Linked DNA regions of Homo sapiens: regions 2 and 3 are each linked to region 1. Evidence: fine-mapped expression QTL. A gene starts in region 1. Each other region holds a variant in brackets. All regions are shown on one strand. Distances are from middle to middle.

What was found.
Region 2: its variant is fine-mapped to the expression of IL6R-AS1 in whole blood (INTERVAL, PIP 0.92).
Region 3: its variant is fine-mapped to the expression of IL6R-AS1 in whole blood (TOPMed, PIP above 0.99).

The regions. Positions count from the first base shown.
Region 1 is chr1:154,402,133-154,410,286 of GRCh38, reverse strand. IL6R-AS1 (IL6R antisense RNA 1) reads left to right here and starts at 3,723. Exons shown (of 2, transcript NR_147855.1): 1 at 3,723-3,848; 2 at 6,330-7,966. It overlaps IL6R (interleukin 6 receptor), which reads right to left and starts at 4,944. Exons shown (of 10, transcript NM_000565.4): 1 at 4,573-4,944. The coding sequence starts at 4,657. RefSeq lists an enhancer at 3,814-4,420 and silencers at 4,660-4,809, 5,010-5,139.
Region 2 is chr1:154,529,922-154,538,077 of GRCh38, reverse strand. The region is part of intron 6 of TDRD10 (tudor domain containing 10); the gene reads right to left. Among named protein-coding and RNA genes, the nearest start is that of UBE2Q1-AS1, 20 kb to the left of the region's middle. The variant A/G (reference allele first, on the strand shown) is at 3,364.
Region 3 is chr1:154,296,509-154,304,684 of GRCh38, reverse strand. It overlaps the pseudogene RNU6-121P. Among named protein-coding and RNA genes, the nearest start is that of AQP10, 20 kb to the left of the region's middle. The variant G/A (reference allele first, on the strand shown) is at 3,520.

The DNA of each region.
Region 1 (8,154 bases):
GGAGTAAGATCCTGTATTTAAAAAAAAAAAAAAGGCCTTTTCTTTGTCACCTTCCCCTTGCCACTCCAGCCCTCAAGGATCCCACCTGCAGACTTGCAGTTATGACCTGGCATTTAGCACTTCCCTCTGCTAGACTTCAAGGAGCTAAAGGGCTGAGGACTTGTTACCCCAGAGATACTTCTCCAGGGCAGGGAGCATCCATGTGTCCCCACAGAGCCCTCTGCTCCAGAACATAACACACCCTCAGGTAGTACACATTGTTAAAGAGGAGGCAAGAATTTTCCTGCCCAAGATGGACATATAGGGAATCTCTAGAGATTTGTATATTTTCTTCAGGTCTTCACTCAAATATTATGTTCTCAGCAAGGCATTCCCTGGCCTCCCATCCAAGGCACCATGCCACCCCACCCTGCCACAAACACACATGGGGTCTGTCTCCCTCTCGGCTTTAGTTTTTCTCCTTAGCACTAGTCGCTAGCATACCACATACTTAATTTACATCCTGTTAATAGTCTCCCACACTAGAATGAAACTCAACTAAGCCTGGGGTTTTTGTCTCTTTTATTCATGGTGTATCTCCAGCTCTTAGAATAGTGCCTGGAACAGAGTAGGAGGTGTTCACTCCAAAAATATATTTTTGGAGTGAATGAATGATCACCTACACTTATTTAAGCACTTGCTGTGTGTTAGGGACTTCTGTAAACACTCTATTTAATACCTTACTTAGCTCATCTCATCTTCATAACCACCCTTCGAGGTAATACAATTATTTCTATTTTCTAGAACACTGGCTGTCAAAGAAGTTAAATCACTTGCCCAAGGTGTTATCATTTTTACTTGGCAGTGCAGGGCAGAGATGTGCCTGGCTTGAAGACCTTAGCCATCACCTATGCAAAATGAGCTGTGTTCAGGTGGAGGAGAGCAGAAGGCAGAGGGGGATAAAGGAAAAGAGAACAGAAAACCTCTGGAAGAAACTGGTTAACACTCTAGCCCAGCACCGTCCAGTAGGGCTTTCCACGATGATGGAAGAGATCTGTATCTGCACTGTTCAGTACAGTAGCCACTAGCAATGTGAGTGTTGAGCACTTAAAATGTGACTAGTGCAACTAAGAAACTAAGTTTTTATTTGATTTCATTTAAATTAATTTTTTGGAGACAGGGTCTCCTGTCGCCCAGACTGGAATTCGGTAGTGCAAACATGGCTCCATGCAGACTGGACTCAAGTGATTCTCCCACCTCAGCCTTCTCAGTAGCAGGGACTACAGGCTCATGTCACTGTGCCCAGCTAATTTTTTAAATCTTTTTGTAGAGACGGCATCTCACCCTGTTGCCCAGGCTGGTCTCCAACTCCTGAGCTCAAGAGATCCTCCTGCCTCAGCCTCCCAAAGTACTGGGATTACAGGCGTGAGTCACTGCGCTGGCATAATTTAAATTTAAATAGGTACACGTGGCTAGTGGCTACCGTATTACAGAGCACAGCTTCAATCCAGACTAGATTCATTGACTGGAAACTCTTTTGCTTGCTGGGTCTGTGGCTTCCAGGCCTGGTGGGACCAGGATTCAGGAGACGGGGGAAGGGAGTGTATATTTTCAGCAGTCAGCACCTAGGTTACTTTGTGTAATCTACAAATACCCAGTGAGGGGAGTATTTGTTTACCCTGGCTGCTGAGGGCTGGAGATGAGGGTCAGGGTCAGGATCAGTGTGCCTGCTGCCTTGGGATCTTGGTCCTCAGTCAGAGGAACTTCCTCTCTCTAACCACCCCCTACCCCAAGCCAGACAATCTGTTCACGGGTAGTTGGTACCCAGTGGCCCGGTCAGAGTCTGGGGTTTCTCAGCCCTTCTCAGGATTTACCCATGACCATTTTCAGGCTCCTTTTAGGGTGGAGTCTGCATAGCTGATCCTACACAGGCCTCACAGGCTCTACACCGACTCAAGAAATGTTTGCTGCAATGAATAAACAAGCAGCAAGCCAAAGCAAGGAGAGATTTCTGGCAACAGAGAGCCCGAAGCGGGAGGGCCTTCATTCAGTTCCTCAATGACACCATTTAGGCAGCCGTCCTCAAACCTGACAGTGCCTAAGAATCACAAGGGGCAGTTTGTTTAAAAGGACATGCCCCAGGCCTCACTCCTAGGTGTTCTTATTTAATAAATCTGGGTTAGGGTTCAAAAATCATCATGTTTACCAAAGCCCTCCCACCCAGCACACACACCAGATCTGATGCTAGGCTCAGAACTAAGCTTTTGAGAAATACTGATTTAGGGTGAGGCTAGGCACGTGTGTGGGTAATGGGGGCAGGAAGAGGTGCCCTAGAAGGAAATTCAGAAGCTGAGATAGCTCTTTGAGATACTTAAAGGTATACATACTTCTTTTGTGTATTTTCTTGCATTGCAGTAGGAAGAGGGAACTTGAGTCACCCAAGTCCAGCCTTCCAGCACCAGAGTGTTGGAACCGGCAGAAGCCTAAGTCCCAGCTAGTCCAGGCCCTTAGACAACGAGTACACCTGAGAAGTCCTGGCAGCTCCAGGGTGTGTGGGCGGCAGCTGATCCCGAGGAAAACAAACCTCTGGGCTCTAAGAGCCCCGCAGGCTGTACCTGCGGATTTCCCCTCTCAGCCAACTCCAGCCTCTGCTCCCCCTCTGCTCCTCACTTCTCTAAAGCGAAACATCTCACAGTCATTTGCTCCATGCTTCCTGTACGATTTCTTTATTTTTACTCTCCAGTTTGTGGGCTGAGTCTGTGTGGGTGTGGGAGAGGGGCTGGGTATTTCTACTTCTCTGCATTTTCCTTCTGAGCTGGGAGGACTTTCACTTCCTCCCCAGTCTCTCAGTTCTGCCTTTCATGGGCTGTTCAGGCCATGAGACCACCTCTCCTAATCCTTCCTGAGCACCAGGGAAATGGAAAACTGACTGTAACTGGCTGCCCTGGAAGGGCCTAGCATCCACTCAGGAGCAACAGGTGGTGGCAACTACAGCAGTAACAGTAACCTCCCTGGGGCAGGAGCCTTGGGCTGGCGTGACAGCAGCAGAGGCAGCCAAGGGAGCCCTGCTTGCTCCTGAGGCCATCCGAGCCCTGGAACCTGTCTTGCATCCCTCTAACACCACCATGGGCAAGCCTGGGCCTCCACTTCCCTCCCTCAGCCTTTTCTGTCCCAGCACTCAGCCAGACAAGAGTGACTCTCAGCTTGCCCCAATGCCCCCAGCTCTGCCTGCTGATCTAGTTCTATATTTGAGAGTCTTAGACATCTACCACACTGGAGCACAGAGCCACGGGAGGGGTTGGCCTCCATCACCGGGGCCTGACAACCTGCCATCCCGCCATCCCAACCTCCCTGAACCTCAGTCTCCTCTTTCAAACAAAGTTATATGTAGATACAGTGGAGGATTAGAAAACATTGAATGGGTGCCCCAATCAACAGTGTCTGTTACTGGCAGGAGTTATAAATGTGTATTGAAAATGGAATCCCTTCTTTTTTTCTTCCAATCATAAGGACCACAACCATCCAAAAAGCAAAGAGAGCCTCAGACACTCCAGCTCAGCCTCTAGTTGCAGAAAGTCACCTCCTCAAAGGGAGAGATCAGTGTTCACCTAGGACTGGAATTCAGTGTGATCTAGTGGTTGAAAGTCTTAGCCTTCAGCCTCCCCAGCCTGTCAGCTGTTCCAGAAGCCTGTCAGCTGCCCCTTAGTTTTCTGCTGTGTCCTCAAAGAAGCACTGGGACCCTAAAATAAACCTCTGGAGAGCCAGTTGCCCAACTCTTCCAGAAGAGAGACTAGACACGCAGCTGGGCATGCGGCCAGAGCCCAAGAAAAGCCTGGTTTGCCAGGGGCAGATTACAGTCAACGGGAGCAGTAAGTGCCTCTGCCCTCTCCCTCACGGGTCCTTCTCTTTTCTAGAGGGGAGTCCAGCACGTGCCAGCCCCAGGAGGTCTCACTCCCTTGCCAGCCTCCCGACTCAATTCCCAGGACTGGGGCACTTGGCTTCCCAGAGTTGGTGGCTGCCAAAGTGACTCCGTGCAGCGGGAAGATCCGTGACTCAGCGCCCGTGATGTCAGTCCCTTCATAGTCAGGGCACTGTCATCCACACATGCACCCGCGGGGGTGGGGGGAGGACCAGGCGAGGTGGACCCCCAATGCAGAGGGAGAAGAGGGGCGCTGGTACAAAGGACTCCCCAGGCGGGTACATCACCCCGCTGGGGCGCGCCCTCTCGGGCAGTCTCCCCTTAGAGTAACCTGGGACGCGGTTGTGTAAAGGCTCCTGGGGGCACTGGGAAGGAAGCTCGAGAGTCAGGTTTGCAAGGACACAGTCCTGTACACAGACCGCAGGGTTCCCGCACAGCTTCACCGGGCATTCCGGGGAGCGCTCCGGACCAAGGGAGCAAGCGCAGCAGGGGGCGCAAGAGCCACTACCCGCGACCACACAGCTAGGTACCCGCGGGGCCTCAAGGCAGCCACAGAAAAGGGGATCCGTCGCACCTCCTTTCCTCCCTCCAGCCTCCCACAGACTGCGGTGACCAAGGCGGTTTCCCCCAGCCGCTAGCTGCCCCAGCCCTCCAGGTGCGCCCGAAGCCCTTACCCTGCGCAGGGCAGCGCCTTGGGGCCAGCGCCGCTCCCGGCGCGGCCAGCAGGGCAGCCAGCAGCGCGCAGCCGACGGCCAGCATGCTTCCTCCTCGGCTACCACTCCATGGTCCCGCAGAGGCGGACAGGCTAATGGGAACCGGGCGGCAGGGGTGGCAGGGGCGGGGCGGGGCGGTGGGCGGGCAGGCGGGCTCAGGCCCCGGGGGCAGCCCCCATCCGCAGGAGCCCGGCTCTCTACACACACTGCGAGTCCCTCGGCCCCGCGCCGCGCTCGGCTCCTCTCCCTCTGGCCCGGCTCAGTGTCAGTGCGACTTCCCACTCGCACATGACTCAGAGCGGCGGACGGTCCTGGCAACGCAGGAAAACATTTGAGGAACTCGCGCTGGAGCGTCTCTGGGCCGTCCCAGGGTGCGGTTACGAAAGCCGGAGCGGATGGCGCAACAGCCCCGCGCACCGGCCGACCGAGGGGGTGGCTTCCTGCCACAGCGCCGCACCTGAGCGGGGAGAACAGGGGACCGCCAGCCCCACCAGAGCCCTTCCTCCCGGTTCTGTTGATGAGAAAAGGGCGTATCAGCCACCAGTGGGCAGTGGCCTAGTTTTGATTTTTGGTTTCGTGAACGGGATTACGCTGTGAAAGGCACACCTGGAGAGCCCTCGAGGAGGCGATGTTCCTCTTACCCTTAGGGTAAAACAGTGCTTGGTAGCCCGGTTGCCCACTGGAATCAGCCAGGAGCCCTAAAACCCACCAATGTCTGGGTCGGGTCTCCAGAGATTCTGATTTCATCGGTCTGGGGTGAGGCTTGGGCATCGGAAGACTCACCACCGTAAAGGCACAGTCTTTCTGCCCAGCTGCTCCTCGCAGGCTGCAGCAGAGGCAAGGAAACGGTTTGGACTTTGCAGTCAGATAGACCTGGGTCCCCATTTAGACCTACCATCTACTGTGTCTGTGACTTCGGTTCAGAATCTGAGTCTCCATTTCCTCATCTGTCAGAGATAAGAAAGCCTATGCTGCCCAGGGTTATTAGGAAGGTTCTGTGGATGGCACCTAAACACCTGACACACGGTCTGGGCCACACGTGCTCAGTAGACATCAGAACGTTCATGGCTGCCCTCCTGACTTGACAGACAGACACTAACACCAGGGGCAGTGGCTCACGCCTGTAACCCCAACACTTTGGGAGAGCCGGGTGGGTGGATTGCTTCAGTCCAGGAATTCTAGACCAGCCTGTGTAACAAAGTGAGACCCCCATTTCTATAAAAAAATTTAAAAATTAGCTGGGTGTGGTGGTACACACCTATAGTCCCAGCTACTAGGGAAGCTGAGGTGGGAAAATTGCTTGAGTCCGGGAGATCCAGGGTACAGTGAGCCGTGATTGGGGGCTGCTACTCCAGCCTGGATGACAGTGAGACCCTGTCTGGAAAGAAAAAAAAAAAAAGAAAAGAAAGAAAGAAAAGGAAGGGAGGAGGGAGGGAGGGAGGGAAGGAGGGATAGAGGGGAAGGAAGGAAAGGAAGGAGAGAAAAAAAGAAAGAAACAAGCACCTGGCTTTTGAGCAACCACAAGGACCTTGAAGGGGACCATCTGTCCGTCCCTTGGAGGGGAACTCTCTCAAGGACCCCCACAGAGCCTAAAGCTGATAGGATGGCCTCATAGCTGAATCTGGAGGGAAAGAAAAATGCTGAAATAAAGTTTAGGCTGAGAAGCTTCTAGACCAGCAACTGCTCATTAGAATGTGTTTTTCTACCTTTGGTTTCAGGCCAATCCTAACCCAGATCAAAGATCCTGGGACAGCTGGAACAGGCATGGCCTAATGGAACTCCCAAGTGGACAGGGCCAGGCATGGACGGACAGAGCTTCTGAAACAGTCCTCAGACCCCGTGCATCTGGATCTTTCTGTAGGAACCACCCATCAGCAGTGCCAGACAGAACCAAGCACATGCACTGATCCACCGCACGATGGGAGCTGGTGTGGGTGAGCTTGTTTGCTTTAGCCATGCCCACAGACAGGAACAGAAGAGCACAGTGGAGGCCACCAGCCCTCTCGCCTGCTATTTCAAAAGGGGTTGCAGCAGGGCTGGAAAGCGGTTCCCACTGTGGTTGCCCCCTTCCTCTCTGTGGCACACACAGACCTGAAAATAACCAGAGAGGGACTGTGAGCTGCCAGCCTAAAACAGGAAGGCTGCAGAAAGTCCTAGGCTCAGATAGGAGAGTTTAAAAGAATGTTGAAACCAAGAACGGGCATCACAGATCCCACCTGTCTCTGCACCAAAGCAGACCTCCCCCTCTCTAATCTACTGGTGGGGAGCCTGTGTGCTCTGTAGTCATGCAGATCCCAGCTTTACCACTTGCTGGCTGTGTGACTTAAGCAAGCTATTTAACTTCTCTGAACCCCTATTTCCTGATTTGTAAGATAAGCGCAGCAATATACAAAGTTTTAGTGTTGTGGTTCACATGAAAAAATTTAATCCTGGCCAGGCCGGACGTGGTGCCTCACACCTGTAATTCCAGCACTTTGGGAGGCCAAGGTGGGCAGATCATGAGGTCAGGAGTTCGAGACCAGCCTGACCAACATGGTAAAACCACATCTCTACTAAAAATACAAAAATTAGCCGGGCATGGTGGTGCGTACCGGTAGTCCCAGCTACTCAGGAGGCTGAGGCAGGAGAATCACTTGAACCCAGGAGGCGGAGGTTGCAGTGAACCGAGATGGCACCACTGCACTCCAGCCTGGGCAAGAAGAACGAAACTCCCTCTCAAAAAAAAGAAAAGAAAAAGAAAAAAGAAAGAGAAGAAAGCATACCTGCACAATTCAGCCTGACCTGCCCTCACCCAGACAACAGAAGGAACAATGAAGACTTTAGTTGTCTGAGCCAGAACACTTCTCAGATAACTGTGCTGCTTACAAATTGCTTTACATACACAATCTCCTCTGAAATTCTCAACCCTGAATGCTGGGAGACATTGCCCCCAATTTTCAGATGAGTAGACTGAGGCTAACAGAGGTAAAGTGGCTTGTTCAAAACTGCACTACTAGTAACTGGCAGCTCCAGGGTGAGGTCTGGCTCCTGGCCCAGGACTCTCACTGAGCAAGGGCTCGGTCGGCCCACCCAGGACCAAAGACACTGCAGACCATGGCAGCAGGCACTTGGTGTTCTGTAGTCTGTGAGGGGAGAGCAGAGAGCAGAACCTGGTGTGTGGGACACCCTCTCCTTCACCGGTGTTCCTGCAGGGACCCTCCGTCTCCTGTAAAGGGGGAAGCCCTAGGCTGACTCCCAGCAAGCAAGTCCTCTCTCACCTTTCACCTGAAGCGATGAAGCATCTTAAAGTTTGCCTAAAGCAGAAGTCTACAGGAGACCCACAGAATAAATATGTAAGGTTATTTTGAAACCAAAAGGGACTTGGTCATCATTGCTTCTCCTCCCTCACTTTTTAGATAAGGAGCTAGGCCTCAAGAAGAGAAGTTGCTTGGTAAAGATGGCACAGGCAGTGGTGACAGAGCTGGTCAAGATCCCAGATACCCTGACTCAAAGTGGTCTTTTTAAATTCCCACCCTGCCCCCAACCTCCAGGTCTGGGCTGATG
Region 2 (8,156 bases), 130 kb before region 1:
TACATAATTATCATCCAACAGCCACAGCAGGCACATCACCTAAACACAGACCTCCAATTTCCGACGTGTCTGTAATACAAAGGTGGCCACACGGAAGCCACAGACATCAAGGCAGCACCTCAATAGCTGCAAGAGCAGTTAATTTTAATTAAGTTCCATTGTTGCTACAAGCATGGTCACCCTCATGCCCAGATCAATCAACAGCTCTTAATTATCCCTTTACTTTGTTCTGGGACATTTCTACCAGGTGGTCAAGTGTTCTAAGAGGTGCGCCTGCTCCAGAGTGATGCTGGGGAGTCCGTGCAGTGGGAGAGGAGAAACAAAAATACAAAGGTTGGTGGCCAGAAGGCTTGGAGGTGGGACCATCCATCCAGTCCCCTCCACACACCAGGGAGAAGTTCTTGCATACACTCAGCAGGGTACAGCCTCATGACACCCAGAACACAGGCAGTGTCCCAACCTGCAGCCTCCAAGTCTGCTCGCTGCCACAACCCTGGGCCATCTCTCTTTAAGCGCTGTCTACACCCACCCTCACCTCCACCAACCTGGGGAACTGCACCTGGGAACACCTGAGGGGCCCATCCTGGTGGAAATTTTGCATGTGCAGCTTCAACCTCAACTGCTTCCTTCTCATTCTTTAATCACTTGCACTTCTATGTGCTAGACACAAAAAGACAAAGATGAAAGACAAAGACCTCTGCGTGGGCTCCTCAGGGAGCCCCCCTTTAGTCACCCACAAATATAAAACGCCACCACAAAGCTCACGTTCTGGTGGGGGCAGCAGACACTAAATAAGTATACAAAGAGGAATAATGTCTTTGGCTGGCAGCAAGAGGGATGAAGAGACAAACGTCAGAGACAGGGGATGAAGGGTGCCAGGGGTGGGTGCTGTCTCATGGAAAGTCCTCCTGAGGTGGTGACTGCTGAGTGGAGCCCGGAATGAAGGGAGACAGCAAACCCTATAGACACCTGGGAGAAGAGCCTTCTGGGCTGACAATAGTAGGTCCAGAGGCCCTAAGGTGGGGATGTACTTGGCTTGTCTGGGGGGCCGCCCCAGGGCTGGTGTGACAAGATATTTTCATCTCTTCCCCGGACTGCCAGAAACAGGTCTTCCTGCCTCCATTCTGGCCTCCTCCAGTGGGTTCTAAAGGGTCCCTTTAAAAGTTAAATCTAGGTGCAAGGACGAATAAATGGTGGCACATGATACAACAGAATATCACTTGGCAATAAAAAAAGAACTGCTGATGGTGCAACCACATGGATGCATCTCAATAACATTCCACTGAATGAAAGAAGCCAGACACAAAGAAGCACGCACAGCCTGATGCCATTTACAGGACACGCTGGAAAAGCTCCATCTCATCGAAAGGATGGACAACAGCTGAGGGCTGCTGGGGGCCCTGAAGGGGGAATCTTTTGGGCGACTGAAATGTTCTCTATCTTGATTGTGACAGTGGTTACATGCTGCACGCACTGGTCAAAATTCGTCAAGCTGTACACTTAAATGGGTTCACTTTAAGTAAATTATACTTCAGTAAGTATATCGAATACTTCAACAAAGTTGATTTTCTAAAATATAAGAATGGGTTCTATCTGGCTATGTCACCCCCTGCTCAAAGCCTCCAGTGTTCTCATTATTATGTGACTGCAAATCCTATTGAATCAAGTTATGTGTTATTTTTATTCTTAAGCAACTTTGTTAAGATGGAGTTTCGCTCTTGTTGTCCAGGCTGGAGTGCAACGGCACAATCTCAGCTCACCGCAACCTCTGCCTCCCAAGTTCAAGCAAATCTCCTGCCTCACCCTCCTGAGTAGCTAGGATTACAGGCATGTGCCACCACGCCCAGCTAATTTTTGTATTTTTAGTAGAGACGGGGTTTCACCATGTTGGCCAGGCTGGTCTCGAACACCTGACCTCATGATCCACCCACCTCGGCCTCCCAAAGTGCTGGGATTACAGGCGTGAGCCACTGCGCCCGGCCTGCAACCTTTTCTTAGGAATTAACTGCTGCTTTTTCCCCAGTCCATTTACTTGGATTTCCTTGAATCTTTGGCTAAGTTTTCCTATAACCTCCAGTGGCTCTTCATAATACCGCTCCTCTCAATTTTACATTTTTCTTCCTGCCAACGTCACCGCTGGAGTCTCACCCCGTCCTGCTCTGCCCTGGACTGCCTGCTGCACAGCAACTGTTCCAGGACTGCCTTTGGCCAATCTGGGAAGCCTCTCATCTCTCTCCTCTTGGATCTGGGTTGGATACCAGATCCCGTCTTGTTTTGGCTTACTGATTCATTTTTGTTGGAACACACTCCTTCATAGCTTTCTGAGAACAGGTACATGGGGCACACATTTTTTGAGACCCTATCTTTCTGAGCAAGTCTTTTTCAACCTTTTTTTAAAAGTGACAGTGTCTTACTTTGTTACCCAGGCTGGAGTGCTGGCACAATCATAGCTCACTGCAACCTCAAACTCCTTCAGGTCAAGTGATCCTCCCATCTCAGCCTCACCAGTAGCTGGGACTACATGTGTGTGCCACCACACCCGGCACATTTTTTGTCGACAGGGTTGCCCAGGATGTTCTCAAACTCCTGGCCTGAAGCAATCCTCCCACCTCAGCTTCCCAAATCCCAAATTCCAAAGCACTGGGATTACAGGTACACACCACTGCAGATGGCTTACCCTTATATTCTCTCTCTCTTTTTTTTTTTTTCTTGAGATGGAGTCTCACTCTGATGCCCAGGCTGGAGTGCAGTGGCATGATCTCAGCTCACTGCAACCTCTGCCTCCCAGGTTCCAGGGATTCTCCTGCCTCAGCCTCCCGAGTAGCTGGAATTACAGGTGTGCACCACCACGCTTGGCTAATTTTTGTATTTTTAATAGAGATGGAGTTTCACCATGTTAGCCAGGCTGGTCTCAAACTCCTGACTTCAAGTGATCCGCCCACCTCGGCCTCCCAAAGTGCTACCCTTATTCTTGACTGACTTGTTTGGGCTTGGATATTATTTTCCTGAAGAATTCAATCACACCACCTGATTCCATATCCTTCAATGTGGATTCTCTTCCTAAAGCTTTATCCCTAGTATTCTAAAATACTTCTGTAAAGTGCCTTCATGTAGGTTTTTATTTTCCCATTCATTATCCTGGGCACTCATTGGCTGCTTTGTATCTGAAAACTCACATCCTTCACCCATGGGAAATTATCTTATATCATTTGATAATCTCTCCCCCACGCTGACCTGAACACTGCCTGGATGCGTGTTGTGCCACGTAAGCTTATCTTCTAATTTTACCTTTTCTTTTCTTTAAAACAATTTCACTACAAAATATTTCAATCAACAAATCCTCTCCCCAAAAAGCAATAACAA[A/G]TCTTGACAAATTGTCAAAAACAATCACTTCAGGACTCTGGAAATTGACTGAAGCATACAAGAAATTGAAAACATCTATTAAAAAGAAAACAATAACAACAACGACTGACCTTTGTACGAAAACAGTGAGCATCTGGGGCTTCCCCACTCCCCACTCCTTCAGCGGATAGTTCTACCAGGATGGGCAAAGCCATGGAAACCAGGAGCATCAAAGGTGGCTGACTTGATCGGAGCAGGCTATGGAAAACCACCAGGTGTTGTCAGAAACTGCCACCTCGTGGTAAGCAACGGGAAAGTTGCAGCCTGGCTTTTATGCATCTTCACCTACAAAAGGTGCCTATTCCTAGCTCTTGCCCATTTTTCTATTAGGTTGTTTCTTTCTTGCATTGATTTCCAGGCATTTTCATCCTGTTTATTTTTGTTTTTTAAAAAATAGCCTAGATCTTAACCCAGGAACTGGCAAACTTTTTCTGCAAAGGGCCAGATAGTAAATATTTTAGATTTTGGGGGCCTTACTGTCTGTCATGAGTCCACTCTGCTGCTGTAGTGAGGAAGCAGCCACAGGCAATCTGTAAACAAATGGCTGAGGCTGCATGCCAGGAATGTTTCATGGACACAAACTGAATTTCATACAATTTTCATGTGTCATGAAATATTCTTCATTTTTTTTCCCATTTAAAAATACGGCTGGGGGGTCTCACGCCTATAATCCCAGCAGTTTGGGAAGTGGAGACACGAGGATTGCTTGCCAGGAGTTCAAGACCAGCTTGGGCAACATAGTGGGACCCCATCTCTACAAACAATAGAAAATTAAAAAAAAATATATATATATATATATATGGCTGGGCACAGTGGCTGCCCTGCAATCCCAGCACTTTGGGAGGCTAAAGCAGGAGGATTGCTTGAGGCCAAATCAGCTGGGCATGGTGGTACACGCCTGTAGTCCCAGCTACTCACGAGGCTGAGGCAGGACTGCTTGAGCCCAGGAGTTCGAGGCTGCAGTAAGTTCAGATCACACCACTGCACTCCAGTCTGGGCAACAGAGCAAGACCCTGCTCTAAAAATATAAATAAATAAAAACCATTCTTAGAACCTCCACTCTGAGAAGATGAAATATACATACTTCATCTTAGTTTTGTTAAACACAACTAAGAGCCCAGGACATTACATGTAAAACAAACATAAGAAGACTCTGAAAGATGGAGAGAAGGGAACAGGCTGACCAGAGACCTTGGAACCCAGGGTACAACGTGGTGATGACTTCTCTGGGTTTTCCTTTTGCTTTATATATTCCAAACTTAGAATTGAAGAGGCCAGCAACCCAGAAACACCAGTAGGTCCAGAAAAAAAAAAAAAAAAAACCCAACAAAAGCCTGCTCTTTCTAGCCAAAGCACCAGAAGAGACAGGCTAGGAAGACAGAAAGCTTGTAGATAATAACTCCTTTACTCCAGCTAAATGCCACCAACAAGGAGATCCCACCTCCACGCATGCCAACAAAGACAGCATGCAGGGCCCAGACTTCTGCCCTCATGGGGCTGGGATGAGTCGCCCAATACCCCCACCCTGATGGTGTCACAAAGGGCCAAGCAGGCAGCCAGGAATTTCATCCCCTACCCAATAAAGAAACCGGTCTCTCCCTACCACCACCCTGCCTGGGTGTCAATAGAAACCACTTGGGAATCCTGGACTTCCATACCCACCTCACAGAGAGAAAGCCCCCCTCTCTCTCCCTACTGGGGGGGGTGTCAGAAGTGTAGTGGAGAGTCAAGACTTTCCTCAGCGGTAATGAAGCCATCCACGCCAAGATGTCAGTGGAGACCACAAACTAGAACTGGCAGTAACAAGGGGCTCGCTGCCGCCTTAGAGGCTGAGTAGGGAGCCTGACTTCCATCCTCACCTGGCAGCAGCGAGGCAGTACCGTGTTCCCCTGTGGGAGCAGCATCAGAGGAAGCCAGTTAAAACACAAGGTGTATACAAAATCTAGTCTAGCAACGTAACAAGAAAATGTCCAAGTTTCCAGTGAAACTCACTCATCATACCAAGAACCAGGAAAATTTCACATGGAATGAAAAAAATGAGAGGCGACAGCGTGCTGGCAGCCCTCGCAGCCCTCGCTCGCTCTCGGTGCCTCCTCAGCCTCGGCGCCCATTCTGGCCGCGCTTGAGGAGCCCTTCAGCCCGCCGCTGCACCGTGGGAGCCCTTCTCTGGGCTGGCCGAGGCCAGAGCTGGCTCCCTCGGCTTGCAGGCAGGTGTGGAGGGAGAAGCACAGGTGGGAACCAGGGCTGCGCGCGGTGCTTGCAGGACAGCTAGAGTTCTGGGTGGGCGTGGGCTTTGCGGGCCGCACTCAGAGCGGCCCCGGGCAGTGAGGGGCTTAGCACCCAGGCCAGCAGCTGCGGAGGGTGCACCAGGTCCCGCAGCAGTGCTGGCCCACTGGTGCTGCGCTTGATTTCTCACCAGGCCTTAGCTGCCTCCCCGCAGGGCAGGGCTTGGGACCTGCAGCCCGCCATGCCTGAGTCTCCCCACCACCCCGCCATGGGCTCCTGCGCTGCCTGAGCCTCCCCGATGAGCAACGCCCCCTGCTCCACAGCACCTGGTCCTATCAACCACCCAAGGGCTGAGGAGTGTGGGCGCACAGCACCCGCCTGGCAGGCAGCTCCACCTGTGGCCCCGGTGCGAGATCCACTGGGTGAAGCCAGCTGGGTTCCTGAGTCTAGTGGGTACTTGGAGAACCTTTATGACTAGCTAAGGGATTGTAAATACACCAATCAGCGCTCTGTGTCTAGCTCAGGGTTTGTGAATACACCAATCGACACTCTGTATCTAGCTAATCTAGTGGTGAGGTGGAGAACTTGTGTGTCTAGCTCAGGGATTGTAAACGCACCAATCAGCACCCTGTCAAAACAGACCAATCAGCTCTCTGTAAAATGGACCAATCAGCAGGATGTGGGTGGGGCCAGATAAGGGAATAAAAGCAGGCTGCCCGAGCCAGCAGTGGCAACCCACTCGGGTCCCCTTACGCACTGTGGAAGCTTTGTTCTTTCGCTCTTTGCAATAAATCTTGGTGCTGCTCACTCTTCGGGTCCACACTGCCTTTATGAGCTGTAACACTCACCCCGAAGGTCTGAAGCTTCACTCCTGAAGCCAGCGAGACCGCGAACCCACTGGGAGGAATGAACAACTCCAGATGTGCCGCCTTAAAAGCTGTAACACTCACTGCGAAGGTCTGCAGCTTCACTCGTGAGCCAGCGAGACCACGAACCCACCAGAAGTAAGAAACTCTGAACACATCCGAACATCAGAAGGAACAAACTCTGGACATGCTGCCTTTAAGAACTGTAATACTTACCGCAAGGGTCCGCGGCTTCATTCTTGAAGTCAGTGAGACCAAGAACCCACCAATTCCAGACACAAAAAGACAATACCTGCCAATGCCAAGACGACACTGGTGCTGGCACTACCTGACAAACATTTTAAAGCAGCCACGACAAAATGCTTCAAGGAGCAATGACAAGCACCCTTAAAACAAATGAACCAAGTCTCAGCCAAAAACAGTATTTAAAAATGGAAATTTTAGGCCAGGCGTGGTGGCTCACACCTGTAATCCTAGCACTTTGGGAGGCTGAGGCAGGCGGATCACTTGAGGTCAGGAGTTCAAAACCAGCCTGGCCAACATGGTGAAACCCCATCTCTACTAAAAATACAAAAAAATTAGTTGGGCGTGGTGGCAGGTCCCTGTAATCCCAGCTACTTGGGAGGCAGAGGCAGGAGAACCGCTTGAGCCAAGACCGTGCCAATGCACTCCAGCCTGGGTGACAGAGTGAGACTCGTCTCAAAAAAAAAAAAAAAATTTAAACTGAAAAATACCATAACCAAAATAAAAAGCTCAGTGGGTAAACTCTACAACAGACTGGAGGCCCAGAAGAAAGAACCGGTGACTGGAAGGCACAGCAATAAAAATTATGCAGTCTGAGCAACAGAAAGACAGTAGACCGAGAAAACCTAGATTCAAACAGGCAAGTGAACCCACAACAGTAAAAATACAAAGAAATGCCAAGACATATCACAATTAAACTCTGAAAACTAAAAACCAAGCAAAAATCTTGAATGCAGAGAAAAACCATTTGAATGACAACAGATTTTTCATCAGAAACCATGGAGGCTCAGCTCGGTAATCTCAGCACTGTGGGAGGCTGAGGCAGGTGAATCACTTAAGTCCAGGGGTTCAAGACCAGCCTGAGCAACATGGTGAAACCCCACCTCTGTTTCAAAAGAAAAAAAAAATTTAATGAAAAAAACTTAAAAAAAAAAAAAAAAAGAAGGAAACCATGGAAGCCAGAAGAAAGTGGTACAATTATGTTTCCAGTGTTGAAAAAAAAAACTGTTTATCTAATGAAAATGTTTTTAGGCCAGACACTTCATGCCTCTAATCCCAGCACTCTGGGAGACCGAGGCGGGCAGATCACCTGAGGTCAGGAGTTCAAGACCAGCCTGGCCAACACGGTGAAACCCTCTCTCTACGAAAAATACAAAAATTAGCCGGGCATGGTGGTAGGTGCCTGTAATTCCAGCTCCTCGGGAGGCTGAGGCAGGAGAATCACTTGAACCCGGGAGGCGGAGGTTGCAGTGAGCCAAGATCGTGTCATTGCACTCCAACCAGCCTGGGCAACAAGAGCGAAGACTCTGTCTCAGAAAAAAAAAGAAAAGAAAAAAATATTCTTTAGGAATGAAGGGGAAATTAAGACATTCTCAGATGAAGGAAAAGAATTTGTTACTAGCAGACCTACCCTAAGAG
Region 3 (8,176 bases), 110 kb after region 1:
GTCTGGCCGGGCACGATGGCTCACACCTGTAATCCCAGCACTTTGGGAGGCTGAGGCGGTTGGATCACTTGAGGCTAAGAGTTTGAGATCAGCCTGGCCAATGTGGTGAAACCCCGTCCCTACTAAAAATACAAAAATTAGCAGGGCATGGTGGTGCGCACTTATAATCCCAGCTACTTGGGAGACTGAGGCAGGAGATTTGCTTGAACTTGAGAGGCAGAGGTTGCAGTGAGCCAAGATCATGCCAATGCACTCCATCCAGGGCCACACAGTGAGACTCCAACAACAATAACCAAAAAAAAAAAAAAAAAAAAAACATGGAAAACAATGAAATCTGAATTACATTACTCTAAAAGATCAACATTACAGCAGTGGGGATATGGCAGTGGGCATGTGACAAAAGGATCTACTGATCTTTCTTTTTTTTGAGATGGAGTCTCTGTTGCCCAGGCTGGAGTGCAATGGCACAATCTCAGCTGACCTGCTACCTCCACTTCCCAGGTTCAAACAATTCTCCTGCCTCAGCCTCTCAAGTAGCTGGGATTACAGGCACCCGCCACCACGCCTGGCTAATTTTTGTATTTTTAGTAGAGACAGGGTTTCACTATGTTGGCCAGGCTAGTCTTGAACTCTTGACCTCAGGTGATCTGCCTGCCCCCAAAATGCTGGGATTACAGGCATGAGCCACTGTGCCAAGTTCTTTTTTTTTTTTTTTTGAGACGGAGTCTCACTCTGTCACCCAGGCTGGAGTGCAATGGCGCGATCTCGGCTCACTGCACACTCCGCCTCCTAGGTTCAAGCGATTCTCCTGCCTCACCCTTCTGAGTAGGTGAGATAACAGGCGCATGCCACCAAGCTTGGCTAATTTTTGTATTTTTAATAGAGACAGTGTTTTGCCATGTTGGCCAGGCTGGTCTCGAACTCCTGACCTCAAGTGATCCACCTGCCTCGGCCTCCCAAAATGTTGGGATTACAGGTGTGAGCCACTGTGCCTGGCCTTTTTTTTTTTTAGATGGAGTTTTGCTCTTGTTGCCCAGGCTGGAGTGCAGTGGCGCGAACTTGGCACACTGCAATCTCCACCTCCTGGGTTCAAGTGATTCTCCTGCCTCAGCCTCCTGAGTAGGTGGGATTACAGGTGCGCGCCACCGTGCACAGCTAATTTTTTGTATTTTTGGTAGAGATGGGGTTTCATCATGCTGGCCAGGCTGGTCTCGAACTCCTGACCTCAAGTGGTCCACCCACCTCGGCCTCCCAAAGTGCAAGGATTACAGGCATGAGCCACTGCGCCCAGCCTTGTTTTTTAAATTAAAGACAGTCTTGCTCTGTCAGCCAGGCTAGACTGCAGTGGCGTGATCATAGCTCACTGCAAGCTCAACCTCTTGGGCTCAAGCAATCCTCCTGTCTCAGTCTCCTAAAGTGCTGGGATTACAGGCGTGAGCCTCCATGCCTGGCCAGGAAGAATACTTTGGCATTCAGGTCATCCACTGGGATGCCTCTTGGTGCTACTGTGATCAATTCTAACAGTAAATAGAAAAGAATTCTAACAGTAAATAGAAAAGTATAGCAGCCACATGGTAACCAAAGGCACTCTCAGGATTTAGGGTCTGGGTCACTCTGCTACCCAGCTCTCTAGACCAGCAGAAGTGCTAGCCAAAGGTGAGGAGAATCTGGCATTAGTGGTACAGGAGGGGATAATGAGAAGTTCTTAGAACCTCAAAACTAATTGCAGCAGTAAAAAGGCTATAAACTTTTCCACTTAATCCTTCTCTCAAAGTTCCCCCAGGAAATGAAACCAATCAGAACGCTATAGATGCTTTTCCCCAACAGGGCAAACTAACTATAAGAAGAATGAATTGGGTCGGGCGCGATGGCTCACGCCTGTAATCCCAGCACTTTGGGAGGCCGAGGCAGGTGGATTACCTGAGGTCAGGAGTTCAAGACCAGCCTGGCCAACATGGTGAAACAACATCTCTACTAAAAATACAAAAAAAAAAAATTAGCTGGGCATTGTGGCTTATGCCTGTAATCCCAGCTACTCAGGAGGCTGAGGCAGGAGAATCACTTGAACCCGGGAGGCAGAAGTTGCGGTGAGCTGAGATTGCACCATTGCACTCCAGCCTGGGCAACAAGAGCGAAACTCCGTCTCAAAAAAAAAAAAAGAAAATTTAGCTGGGCGTGGTGGTGCACGCCTGTAATCCCAGCTACTCCGGAAGCTGAGGCAGGAGAATCGCTTGAACCTGGAAGGCAAAAGTTTCAGTGAGCAGAGATTGTGCCACTGCACTCCAGCCTGGACGGCAGAGTGAAACGCTGTCTCAAAAAGCAAAAAACAACAACAACAAAAAGAAGAATGAATCATGCGGTGGCTCGCGCCTGTAATCCCAGCACTTTGGGAAGCTGAGGCGGGTGGATCACGAGGTCAGGAGTTCAAGACCAGCCTGGCCAAGATGGTGAAACCCCATCTCTACTAAAAATACAAAAAAATTTAGCCGGGTGTGGTGGCAGGCGCCTGTAATCCCAGCTACTTGGGAGGCTGAGGTAGAGAATTGCTTGAACCCAGGAAGCAAAGTTGCAGTGAGCCAAGATCGCCCCACTGCACTCCAGCCTGGGCGACAGAGCGAGACTCTGTCTCAAAAAAAAAAAAAAAAGGATCTGAGTAGTGCAAGTGGTAAACTGTAGAAAACACCGGTGTTTCACCCAGATTCCCTTTCTAGGATCATAAGCCTACTCCCCAGCTGCTAGGAATATCAGCCACTGATGGCCCACCGCTGCCTCCCTCACTGGACATTACCATCAGCCACAGGAAATTGTTTTGACCTTTCTTTCCTGCAGCCAATGATTGGCTAATGCAGTGACACAAAATCATGGTCCCTTTGCCTTCATTTGGGACAGCTCTGAAAAATTATCTTCATTCCAGGGCTGTCTGTAAAATCCAAGGATCAGTTAAGGTTCTGCTGCAACCACATTGTGTGTCAGCTACTCCCTCTGCTCAATTCTGCCTTCTTAACTTAAAAAAAAATTTTTTTTTCTGCTGGGTGTGGTGTCTCATGCCTGTAATCCCAGCACTTTGGGAGGGTGAAGTGGGTGGATCATTTGAGGTCAGGAGTTCGAGACCAGCCTGACCAACATAGTGAAACTCTGTCTCTAATAAAAATACAAAATTAGCCAGGTGTGTTGGCGCATACACCTGTAATCCCAACTACTCAGGAGGCTGAGGCAGGAGAATCACTTGAACTCAGGAGGCAGAGGTTGCACTGAGCCGAGATCGCACCACTGCACTCCAGCCTGGGTGACAGAGCATGACTGTCCCCCGCCACCAAAATTGGTTTTTAAAATATTTTCTTCCCTCAGAGATCCCTGTTCTGAATGTTTTTATTTATTTATTTATTTATTTATTTATTTATTTATTTATTTGGTAGATATGGGGGTCTCACTATGTTGCCCAAGCTGGTCTTGAACTCCTGATCTCAAGTGATCATCCCACCTCAGCCTCTCAAAGTATTGGGATTACAGGCAGGAGCT[G/A]CCACACCCAGTCTGACTTTTGATATTCTTTAACCTGAAAGACTCAAGGAGGGTGGCTAATGGTACAAAGTGTGTGGGTTGGAAAAACTAAATGTCTTAGATTGGTTCTCCCTGGAAACAGGCCCTGATATGGAGAGTTCCATGTAGAAGGTTTATGTGGCAGTGATCTTCAGAGATACACTTGTGAAGAAGTAAAGTGGCTGGGCGCGGTGGTTCATGCCTTCCATCCCGGGCGTGAGAATCACTTGAGCCCAGGAATTCGAGACCAGCCTGGTCAACATAGTGAGACATACCCCCATTCAGGCCTGGCTCTTTTATTCTTCTTTTTCTGGTAAAGGAATAAAAGAATGGCTACTCCATAAGCAGAGCAGCCCCGGCTCTTTAACAAAAAACAACAAACACATTTAGGGCTGAGTGCGGTGGCTCAAGCCTGTAATCTCCACACTTTGGGAGGCTGAAGTGGGAGGATCACTTGAGGCCAGGAGTTCAAGACCAGCCCCCTGGACAGCATACTAAGACCCCCATCACTACAAAAAAAAAGAAAAAAAAATCAAAAGGAAAGAAAAGAATATCAAAAGTCACCATATACGGCTGGGTGCCGTGGCTCACGCCTATAATCCTAGCATTTTGGGAAGCCAAGGTGGGTGGATTGCTTGAACTCAGAAGTTTGAGACCAGCCTGGGCAACATGATGAAACCACGTCTCTACAAAAAATACAAAAAATTAGCCAGGCATGGTGGAGCATGCCTGTAGTTCCAGCTACCTGGGGAGCTGAGGTGGGAGGATCACTTGAGCCCAGGAGGTCGAGGATGCAGTGAGCCAAGATCTCGGCCACTGCACTCCAGCCTGAGTAACAAAGTGAGAGCCTGTCTCAAAAAAAAAAAAAAGTCACCATATCCTGCATCGAGATCTCTCCCCTGTCACTTTGAAAAAGAAGAAAAAATTGGTTTTATTTTCATAGTTTCTAAAGTAATATGTGCTTATTATTCTTATACCACATACTCATGTTTCCAGGTAGAAGAACTTCTATTAGACCTTTTTTTTTTTTTTTTTTTTGAGACAGAGTTTTGCTCTGTGTCATCCAAACTGGAGTGCAATGGCGTGATCTCAGTTCACTACAACCTCTGCTTCCCAGGTTCAAGCAGTTCTTCTGCCTCAGCCTCCCAAGTAGCTGGGATTACAGGCACCCACCACCATTCCCAGCTAATTTTTTTTGTATTTTTAGTAGAGATGGGGTTTCACCATGTTGGCCAGGCTGGTCTCAAACTCCTGACCTCAGGTGATCCACCCGCCTTGGCCTCCCAAAGTGCTGAGATTACAGGCATGAGCCACTGTGCCTGGCCTAGACCAGTTTTTAAAACCAGGAATACTACTATCTCATAGGGAGAATTTTGAAAATTTGTAAGGCCAGGTGTGTGAGTACACGCCTGTAAATCCAGCACTTTGGGAAGCTGAGGTGGGCAAATTGCTTGAGCCCAGGAGTTTGAGACCAGCCTGGGCAACATGGCAAAAGCCCTTTTCTACAAAAAATACAAAAATTAGCCAGGCATGGTGGTGCATGCCTGTGGTCCCAGCTACTCAGAAGGCTGAGATGGGAGAATTGCTTGAACCCAGAAGGTTGAGGCTGCAGTGAGCCGAGATCACGCTGCTACAATCCAGCCTGGGCAACAGAGACCCTGTCTCAAAAAAAAAAATTGTAGTCAGAATTTTTGTCAATGTTGTTTCACAATGGGTGGGAAAGGGGCAGTAATTCTTACATTTAGTAGTCAGAGTCCAGATATTCTAAACATTCTGCAAGACACGCAACAAAGACTTGTTCTATGTATGTCCTACATGACTTTAGAATGTCCTACCATAGTGCATATAGGTGAAAAACTTGTTTATAATTATATGATCTCAGAATGTGACTCTTTTTTGTATATAAATACAAAGTAATTTTAGCAGATTTTTTTTTTCTTTTTTTTTTTGAGATGGAGTCTCACTCTGTCACCCAGGTTGGAGTGCAGTGGTGCGATCTCAGCTCACTGCAACCTCTGCCTCGCGGGTTCAAGCGATTATCCTGCCTCAGCCTCCTGAGTAGCTGGAATTACAGGTGCCTGCCACCATGGCTGGCTAATTTTTGTATTTTTAGTAGAGACAGCGTTTCACCATGTTGGCCAGCCTGGTCTTGAACTCCTGACCTCAGGTGATCTGCTTGCTTCTGCCTCCCAAAGTGCTGGGATTATAGGCATGAGCCACCTTGCCTGGCCCTAATTTTAAAATTTTTTTGTGGAGATGGGGGTCTCCTTATGTTGTCCAAGCTAGTCTTGAACTTCTGAGCTCAAGTGATCCGCCCACCTCAGCCTCCCAAAGTTCTGGGATTACAGGCGTAAGCCACCACACCTGGCCTCTCTTTATCCTCTTATTTTGCTTTTTGTTTGTTTGTTTGTTTGTTTTGAGACAGAGTCTTGCTCTGTTGCCCAGGCTGGAGTGCAGTGGTGCGATCTTGGCTCACTGCAACCTCTGCCTCCCGGGTTCAAGTGATTCTCCTGCCCCAGGCTCCCAAGTAGCTGGGATTACAAGTGTGCGCCACCATGCCTGGCTAATTTTTGTATTTTTAGTAGAGACAGGCTTTCACCATGTTGGCCAGGCTGGTCTTGAACACCTGACCTCAGGTGATCCACCCGCCTCCACCTCCCAAAGTGCTGGGATTACAGGCTTGAGCCACTGTGCCTGGCCTGTTCTTTAAGTGTTGACATGATTTAGCAATAAAGCATCTGGACCTGGGCATTTTCTTGTGGGACGATTTTAAATCCAAATTCTTTTCCTTTTCCTTGGTATAGGTCTATTTGGATTTTCTTTTTTTCTTTCTTTAGTTAGCTTTGTTAATTTGTCTCTTTCTAGGGTTTTCTCCATATCATTTAAATTCCCTACAATTCCTTCCTTCCTTCCTTCTTTCTTTCTTTCTTTTTTTTTTTTTTTTTTTTTGACGGAGTCTCACTCTGCCGCCCAGGCTGGAGTGCAGTGGCATGATGTTGGCTCACTGCAGCCTCCACCTCCTGGATTCAGGCAATTCTCCTGCCTCAGCCTACTGAGTAGCTGGGACTACAAGCATTCGCCACTACGTCTGGCTAATTTTTTTGTGTTTTTAATACAGACAGGGTTTCACTATGTTGACCAGGCTGGTCTCAAACCCCTGACCTCATTTGATCTGCCCGCCTCGGCCTCCCAAACTGCTGGGATTACAGGCATGAGCCACCACACTTGGACAAGATGTCCCTTCTTTCATTCTTGATTTTGGTAATGTGTATGTTCTTTCCTCTTTTCTTGGGCAATCTAGCTAAAGATATGTCTGTTTTGTTGATCTTTCCAAATAACTAGTAGTATTACTCTATATATATAGTACATTTGCTTTTATTTTTTCTTTTATTTACATGTAAAAATATGGAGTGCTTCACAAATTTGCATGCCATTCTTATACGGGAGACTGGCTAATCTTCTCTGAATTGTTCAAATTTTAGTATATGTGGTAGCCAATTGTCTTTAAACAAGTTGACCGTGATGTGTCTAGGTATTTGAGGTTTATTGAGATTCTTAGATGTGTAATGTTTTTCATCAAATTTGAAAAGTTTTTGGCTATTATTTTTTTTGTTTGTTTTTTGAGATGGAGTCTCACTCTGTCTCCAGGCTGGAGTTCAGTGACAAGATCTCAGTTCACTGCAATCTCTGCCTCCCAGGTTCAAGCGATTCTCCTGCCTCTAAAGTTTTTGTTTTCTATTTCATTGATTTTTCAGTCTGGCGTTTATTATGTTCTTTCTTCTATTTACTTTATGTTTGATTTACTCTTATTTTTCCAGCTTCTTGAAGTGAAAGATTGGATTATTGATTTTATTTTATTTTGTTTTTTATTTTTTTGAGGTAGAGTCTTGCTCTGTCACTCAGGCTGGAGTGCAGTGGTACAATGTCGGCCAGCTACAACCTCTGCCTCCCAGGTTCAAGCGATTCTCTGTCTCAGCCTCCCAAGTAGCTGGGATTACAGGCATGTGCCACCACACCCAGCTAGTTTTTGTATTTTTAGTAGAGATGGGGTTTCGGGTTTCGTCATGTTGGCCTGGCTGGTCTCAAACCCCTGACCTCAGGTGATCCACCTGCCTCGGCCTCCCAAAATGCTGGGATTACAGGCGTGAGCCACCATGCCCAGCCTAGATTATTGATTGTAGACCTTTCTTTCTTTCTACTAAAGGCATTTAAGCTACAAATCTTCTTCTAAGCATTGCTTTAGCTTTATCCCTTAAATCTTTCTTTTCTTTTTTTTTTTTTTTTTTTTTTTGAGACAGAGTCTCAGTCTGTCACCCAGGCTGGAGGCTAGAGTGCAGTGGTGCCAATTTGGCTCACTGCAACCTCTGCCTCCCGGGTTCAAGTGATTCTCATACCTCAGGCTCCCGAGTAGCTGGGACTACAGGTATGCACCATCATGCCCAGCTAATTTTTTGTATTTTGTTATTTATTTATTTATTTATTTAGAGACGGAGTCTCGCTCTGTTGCCCAGGCTGGAGTGCAGTGGCAAGATCTCAGCTCACTGCAAGCTCTGCCTCCCAGGTTCATGCCATTCTCCTGCCTCAGCCTCCTAAGTAGCTGGGACTACAGGTGCCTGCCACCACACCTGGCTAATTTTTT